Homo sapiens: one gene and its partner. The protein of the gene in region 2 interacts with the protein of the main gene of each other region in a pairwise test. Each region holds a gene or a part of one and is shown on either strand. Other genes may lie near its edges.

Evidence for each region.
Region 1: the proteins of WT1 (region 2) and CASZ1 interact in a two-hybrid assay, tested with the Homo sapiens proteins (one large-scale study listed by BioGRID and IntAct).

Annotation. Positions count from the first base shown.
Region 1 is NC_000001.11:10,653,442-10,657,246, forward strand, and holds part of CASZ1 (zinc finger protein castor homolog 1), read right to left. Parts: intron 3,296-3,805; coding exon 3,205-3,295; intron 2,373-3,204; coding exon 2,208-2,372; intron 1,151-2,207; coding exon 978-1,150; intron 778-977; coding exon 1-777. UniProt on the Homo sapiens protein: Transcriptional activator. Involved in vascular assembly and morphogenesis through direct transcriptional regulation of EGFL7.
Region 2 is NC_000011.10:32,429,026-32,432,830, forward strand, and holds part of WT1 (Wilms tumor protein), read right to left. Parts: intron 1,789-3,805; exon of another isoform or gene 1,515-1,788; coding exon of another isoform or gene 1,505-1,514; intron 1-1,504. UniProt on the Homo sapiens protein: Transcription factor that plays an important role in cellular development and cell survival. Recognizes and binds to the DNA sequence 5'-GCG(T/G)GGGCG-3'. Regulates the expression of numerous target genes, including EPO.

The DNA of each region.
Region 1 (3,805 bases), on a different chromosome or scaffold from region 2:
AGGCCCTTGCTTGCAGAGATCCTCTCCATGATGGAGGCGGGTGGTGCCGGGACAGAGGCGGCAGCCACGGGGGCTGAGTCTCCAGCTCCCGAGGCGACCAGCGTGGGTGTGTCAGGGGTGGCTGAGGCTGCTGACCCAGACGACACGGCACCCAGGAGGCTGGGGGTGCCCACAGGCAGGGAGGTGCTCCCACGGCCAGCCAGTATGGGGAAGTAGGGCGTGGGGGTGGGCAGGCCCGAGTTGGAGAGGGCCAGGGCCAGGGGGATTGAGCCAGGCAGGCCCTGGGGCAGCAGCCCCGAGATCTTGCTGTTGGGAGGTTTGGTGGCACTGGGCCCAGCCTCGGTGGCGGCAGTGGCGGCAGCCAGGGACGCAGAGGACTGCTGGCTGGTAGGGGAGGCGCTCAGGCTGGAGTTCTTGCTGCTCAGGGCGGAGAAGTCAACAAGGTCGTCGTTGCTGGACTCCTCGTGCTCCGTGTCCTTGGCGCCCAGCAGCGAGGGCGGCAGCCCCAGCGCGCCCGAGGAGCGGATGTGCCGGCGCTCATGCTTGCGCTTGTGAGAGGTCATCTGGCTGGTGGAGGTGAAGGTGAAGCCGCAGCCGGCGCGGATGCAGTGGAAGTGGTTGGTAGCCTTGCTGTACACGCAGCCCTCGTACTTGCACTCCTCGTACTTGTAGAACTTCTTGAAGCCGTCCTTGGCGTAGGCATCGTCCTTGATGTGGTAGCTCTTGTGCTTCTCGATGTCACACTTGTTCTTGAAAGTGAATGTGCAGCCGGGGCGCCTGGATGGGACATTGGGAGCCTGTCATGAGACCCAGAGGAGGCCCCACCCTGCTACACCATGGCCCTGGGAGGGACAGTCCCCCGGGTGGAAAACCCAGGCTGGACACCGAGGCAGGGGCCTGAGCCGTCCCACGAGCCTGGGTCCTTGCCTTCCCTCCCCGCTTCTGCCCACGAAGGCCCCCACCAGGCTCCCGCTTACCTGCAGTGGAAGTGCGTGGTCTTCTGTCCGTAGAACTGGCAGTCGGCTGTGCCACAGTCTTCGGTGGCTCGGAAGCGCTGGAAGCCGTCGTTAATGAGCTGGGTATTCTTCTTGTGGAAGTTCTCGTGGGTCATCACGTCAGACGTGCTCGTGTACACCTTGTTACAGCCCACCTGCACAGGACGGGATGGTGGTCAGGCGAACGGAGGCCAGGTGCTCCTGGGCCGAGGTCGACACCACTGTGTGTGGCTGGGGCCACTGACTTCCCTGCTCAGGGAAGCTTTGGCACCTCTGACTTCAAACTGGAGGCCTCGGGATGTTGATGTAGGAAGCAGAGTAGAAAGCCTCCAACAGCCCCTCAGGCCTCCACAGAGGGACCAAGTGCTGCTGGAGCCTGGCTCCGTCTGTGCTGAGGATCAGGGCATCTCCGGAGACTCAGGGCACTTTTTGGCCCAGGGGAGGGAGCTGCATCCTGCAGGAGTTGGATTTTGAGTTCCAATCCATGGCCCTACCTCTAAAACCCTCAGTGGGTGGACAGGGGCTGGACCCTGGAGGTCACCTTTAGCCCAGGGATTTGCTTAGTGGACAGTCCCTGGGCACGGGGCCCTCCCACCCCACCCCAGCTGGGCCAGGAAGGCAACGTTGCCATATTGAGTAAAAACCCGTGGAATCCGAACACTCTCGTAGGCTGGGCCGTGCCAGTGTCTGCACCATCTCAGAGCCCAGAGGGTGGCCCCCCTCTCCTCGTGGCCCAGGTTGTTCACAGAGGCCATAACAACTCCTGACAAATACCGGGGGAGGCATAGGGCTGCTATTTGCAACCCAAAGTCGCTCCTCCTGGCCCTGACACCTTGAAAAAGCCCAGACTCTGCGTGGCATTAAAACAAAGAATTAAACAAAAACCTCCTCAGGAATCATTTGCAATGCTGCTCTTGGTGTTAAAGCCTGAAAAATGTCCATCTGTATAAACAGCTCACTGAATTTCATCCACACCAAGTATGGCCATGGGGAAGGCCCCACCCTGGCCCACCAGACGCTGCCCAAGCCTGAACCCCCAGGACCCTCCTGGCTCGCTGGCCATCCCTGTGCTGGGCCAGGGGAAAGAGAGGCTCCTGATCAACTGGGGTCCCTGCCCATGGGGCAGCCCTGCCTCTGGGAGTGGGGGGCTCAGAGCCGGGAGGGCCTGGGCCAGTCCTGCAGCTGCCCAGTGGGCCCGGGTGCGGGAGGCACCTGCATGCAGTGATAGTGGGTGCTCTTCCCATTGAGGTGGCAGCCGTGGTAGTAGACGCTGCAGTCGTCCAGCGGGCTGAAACGCATGAAGCCGTGCTGCAGGGAGTTGTCGCGCTTCTTGTGCATGTTGTAGTGGCGGATCACGTCCTGCTTACTCGTGAACCTCTGCCAGGAGACAGCGCCACGTGGGCAGGAGCCTGAGCTCCCCCTCCGCCCTTCCTCCCATATGCCAAGAGCACCTGGGCCAGGTGCTGGCCTCAGGTCTCCCTAGAAAGAACCCTGCTTGGGGTCAAGGCAGCCCAGATTGTCCAAGGCCAGTGGCAGGCACATCAGCCCTTGGAGGGAACCATCCCAAAGGTTCTAGGACCATAGATTCTTCCCCGATGCTCCCCTAGGTGCCCAGTGGCCATCCCCAGGAGCACAGATGATGCATTGGGCCAGGCCTTGAGGGCAGGGGCTCTGATGCTGACAGCTCATCCCGCCCAGTGCACCTCTGGACTAAGGCAGGCTGGGATCCCTGGCAAGCCAGAGGGAGCCACCCCACGCAGGCTGCCCTGACTCTCCCCCCACTCACCAGCCCCGCGCTCACTGGCGGGCAGCCTTGGGCACAGTGGCACTCTGGCTGAGCCACAATTTTATCATCTTTAAGATGGGGCAGTAATGCTAACCTTCTAAGGCCACTGCAAAGAGTCAATTAGGCAAGGCTCATAGGCTGGCTGGCATGGCCCTGGGCACGTGGGAGGCTCTCAGTCAAAGGGGACTGGAATGATCACCACTGGGAGGTCACTGGCCCCCAATCGTAGGAGCTGCTCTGTCGGCAGGAATCGGGGAATGTGGGCAGGCTGGTGGTTTTGCGGGCCCTCTACCTGCTCAAGTCAAGTTTGGGTGGTGCAACTAGAACTAACCCCCCCCACTGCCGTCCCCGCCTGCCGACTTCTAAGCGCCTCCATGCTGTGCTGGTGGCGGAGAGGCGGAGCCCATCTGGCTGTGGCCGTACCTGGTAGTTACACTCAGGGTCAAGGCAGTGGTAGTGCTCGCGGTACTGGTAGGCACAGTGGATGTGGCCACAGTGCTGGCTGCCCGAGAACCTGGAGGGAGGAGGGGTGGGGTCAGGGCCCTGCTGTGGGTGACAGTCCCAGCCCCAGCCCCAGCCCCAGCCCCAGGGAGGACTCTTCGGGCCCTGTATGGGATGCAGAGGGGAGGTGAAGTTGCAGAGGCCCAGGCAAGTGACTGGGCCTGGCGGGAATCCCAGGCCCATTGAGGCAAAGAGGCCTGGCCCCAAGAAAGGGGCAGGACAACACTGAGGTGGCCAAAAGTCAAAGTAGGGGGAGACAGATGGGGCCCGAGCCCTGGGATGGAAGGGAAGGCAGGCGCCCCCTCGGCTGCCCACCTGTCTTTTCTGCAGGGGCTACCTGCCCCACTCCCAGCCCGCCCAGTTCTGGCCAGGTGCAGAGACCCTGGCTGGGCCAGCCGGGCTCTGATGCTGAGAGGTGTTAAAGGGCTCTCTCTGTCCTGGGCTTTTCCTGACACTTGAAACAGTGCAGAGCTATGAATTTTTAAAGCACAGCATCTGTTTGGCTTCCTACAGCAACGAGCTC
Region 2 (3,805 bases):
ATCTGCTGGGCTAACCCCGCGTTGACTCCGAGCTGTAAATCAGGGGCCCGCGCACCAACTTTCATTAATTACTCGGAGCCAGTTAAATGGCCTGGTCTTAAAAATGGGAAGAGTAATTACCGAGTAATGTTATCTGTCTGGGGCTACCCGACCTGACACCATGACACCCAAGGGAAAGCTGGTGAGGGGGAAAACAAGGGCCCCTTCCAGTTGGGCCTTCAGATGGCGACCCTGCGCTCTCCTCCTCCTCCCCCCTATGGGACCCACCTTGCGCCCAGGGGTCCGACCCTGACCACTGCTGTAGGAGCCAACTTCCTCACTCCCCAGGCTGGACAACCAATTTCCTTTAGAGTGTGCCTGACACTGTATCTCCCTTTCCCTCCATGGTAGTGCTTCGGTCCTTTGCCTCAGTTTCCCCCTAGGGAAATCCTAGCATTCCCCCCCCCCCCCAAAGTGAGAAAAAGAGCGTGGAGCCTCAGTTGGAAAACATAGTCTTTTATAATTTTTGTTATTAAATTGCTTTAAACTTATACCCCACAAGCTTCTGGAAAGCTGTTGCTGCCTCTGGGGAAAAGGATCCTTCGGCTAAAGATACGTCATTGGCCCCGGAACCCAAGGATGGGGTCTCATTCCTCTACAAGTTCCGGAGTCTGTGGCCTGAAGTCCAGACACAATGGCTAAGGAGAGCTGCTCCTATGGGATCCTGGCAGGGCCACCCCAGCAGCCTCAGATCCTCCTGGCCCAGGACTGCCCTGGGTCTCCAAACTTCACAAAATTCTCAGGAGTAAATTGGGTCAAACAGCACCCATTCTCCCACTCTTGCACTATTTGACCAAAGTGCCTCCAAAGACTTAAGCAGGACTCAGCCGATGAGCAGGACCCAGGGCATCGTTACCTCCATTTTCGAAACACACACGGACGCTCATGCACACACACCACCACCCCCCGCCCAGAAAAAAAAAAAAAGAAAAAGAAAAAAAAAAAGCTTCTCTGGGGCAACAGAGGCATGAGCCTGGAGGGTGGTGTGGCAGAGTGCAAGGGAGGGAAGGAGGGGGCAAATCCTAACTCCCGGATAGTACAGGTCCAGGCTTAAGTCTCACACACTGCTCAGCACCACACACTGGGGATTTGAGAAGCCACTAGCTTTTATCATATGACCTCGAGGGCCTCCATTTCTCTCCTGCTAAGTGGGCAAAGATAACCCCCGGCCCCGTTAGCTCTCCTGCATGGGCGAGCACGTTTGGGCTTCCACAGACTTCCTTTTGAAACCTGAGGCCTGGCCTTCTTTGAGGCCTATAGATGAGCTTACAAACGAAATTTGGCTCAGGGCACCCACTATTGCCCGGAGTGAAGGCCGAATTTCTGAAAGGACACTAAAAAGAGAGAGAGAGAAAGAGAGACAGACACAGAGAGAGAGAGAGAGAGGGAGGGAGAGAGAGAGAGAGAGAGAGAGAGAGAGAGAGAGACGAAATAGAAGCTACGAAGAAGTTTTCTCTAGACGAACCCTTCTCCATTCCTGAGCCCAGGAGTAGGCAGGGACCCAGGGCACTGCACAATCCTCAGAGCCCTGCTCCGCAACTGTCCGTGCCCGGCGAGGGCCGTGGGTCCCGAGTCGCGGCACCCACTCTCGAGACGTCCGTCCGCACCCCAGAACTCGGGCCCAAGGATGCCCGTGGCCCGCGAGCCCTCCTAGGCCTCCTCCCAGACCGGACACGCAGACCTCGGCGGGCAAAGACCGGCCTCAAACCCTCTCCTTCAGGTCCCCCCGGGAGGGGCAGTGGTGAAAGCGCCTGCGGAGCGGAGGGAGGTCTCTTTTAATTAGAAGCTTATCGGACACGGGTTTGATTAGAGCGCGCTGTCCCTGGGCCCAGCGCTTGGCCTGGCGCGGAGAGTGCGGGGGCAGGGGCCAGGGGAGGTAAAGCTGCCGGCTGGAAGGAGCAGCGTGTTCAAAGGCTCCTTGTACAGGCCTTGGAGGGAGAGAATCGAGTGGCCAAGGTAGCGCCTTTCCCACGGTTAGTCCCGGCCCGGGAGGGGAGCGCAACCTTGACCGTGCGCTAAGAGGCGAGACGCGCTCTGTGCCCTCCTCCCCCGCCGGCGGCTGCAGAGAAGCCGGGAACCGCCTGGCCTGGCCGGGCCGTGAGAGCTGAGGGGTGAAATGGACAGCAGGCTCAGCCAGGAAGGTGCTCAGAAGGCTGAAAACGATGACTGCAGCTGCACTGTGATTGGGGAAAACCTGTCCCCCAACAAAATACCCTCTCCTGTGTGACCGGAAGAGGGAGCCTTTGGCCCTCGGGCGTCGCAGGCCTCCGCACCTGACCCTAGGGTGGCCTGATGATCCCAGGCCTAATCATGCCTTAGGGTTCTGCGAGCCTGCGGGGCTGCGGGATCAGTGGACTAGCAGGCAACCTCTTTTTTTTTTTTTTTTTTCCGAGACGGAGTTTCGCTCTGTCGCCCAGGCTGCAGTGCAGTGGCGCGATCTCAGCTCACTTCAACCTCAGCCTCCCGGGTTCAAACGATTCTTGTGCCTCAGCCTCCCGAGTAGCTGGGATTATAGGCGCCCGTCACCAAGCCCGGCCAATTTTTTTTTTTGTATTTTCAGTAGAGACAGGGTTTCACCGTGTTGGCCAGGCTGGTCTCAAACTCCTGACCTCAGGTGATCCAACCGCCTCGAGCCACCGCGTCCGGCCCAAGCAAGCTTTTTTCCCCTCCTCCTTAAGCCTTGCATCTAGTCTGGGGCTACTCAAGTCCTCACCCCACATCTGCCCTCACAAACCCGTCAACCCCCACACATGGACTAAGAGTTTGGTGCCCCTCCCGCAGGCCAGAAGAAATCCATCTCAACGGTGGGGCCAAGATCCCTGGAAAAGGAGTAGAAACACCCTAGCATGGTCTGGGTTCAAATCCCACCTCTGCCACCTAATCTCATAGAACCTGGATTTCCTCATCCAAAACAAGGGGCCTCTCCAGGATTAGCTGGTGAGCTTCTTGCAAAGGTTCTCGAGGCCATTGTCTTAATTAATATTCAGAACCCAGTGCCTGACCAAGTAGGCGATTGATGTTTGCTAAATTAATGTTTACAAGATTAGGATGCAAGATATAATATTTAAGAATTTAAAATATGAACATGCTTGTGAAGTTTTGGGCGGTTGTGAGTGGGTACCAACAATTGCCCCTGCCTGTGCACCATGGCTAGACTGCCCTAGGGATCCAGAGACGGCCTTGATTCCTCTCCCCTGGGGTTTGGCCTTGGCGCTCTGATGGCCATTTCCACATTTTTGAGAGTTGATGCCCTTGCCTCTCACAGCCCAAGTCTTGGGCCAGGCCCTGCATTCCTGGGGAAGCAGCAGGAACCCTGGAAATCCAAAGAATAAACCCAGAATCTCGAGGGCCACCCTTGCCCACTCCAGGATAGCAGCCGGAGCGCTTCTCACATCCAAGCTGCCCAATGAGCCTCAAGGGCTGGGTAAGATGGACCCATCTGTTTTCACTGCAAGACAAAACTTAAACCTGGAGATGGTGCTTCCAGGCTATATGACTTGAATCTAGGGCCCTCTCTCCATTGGGCTTTTTCTCCAGGGTGGAGAAGAAGGATACATTCACCTACTAGTCCTGGTCCCCTTTTAACTTTTTCTCCATGGCAGCCACGCCTGTATATTACAGAAGAATCCAGATATTTTCCAGAAGTGTAATGCCTGCTGGCTGCAAAACCCACAGTCCCACCCCCCACGACATGTGATAAGATCCCAGGCACCAGACCTGCCCTGAAAAGGGCTGGACAAGGGACCCAAACGAAGCGACAGAACCC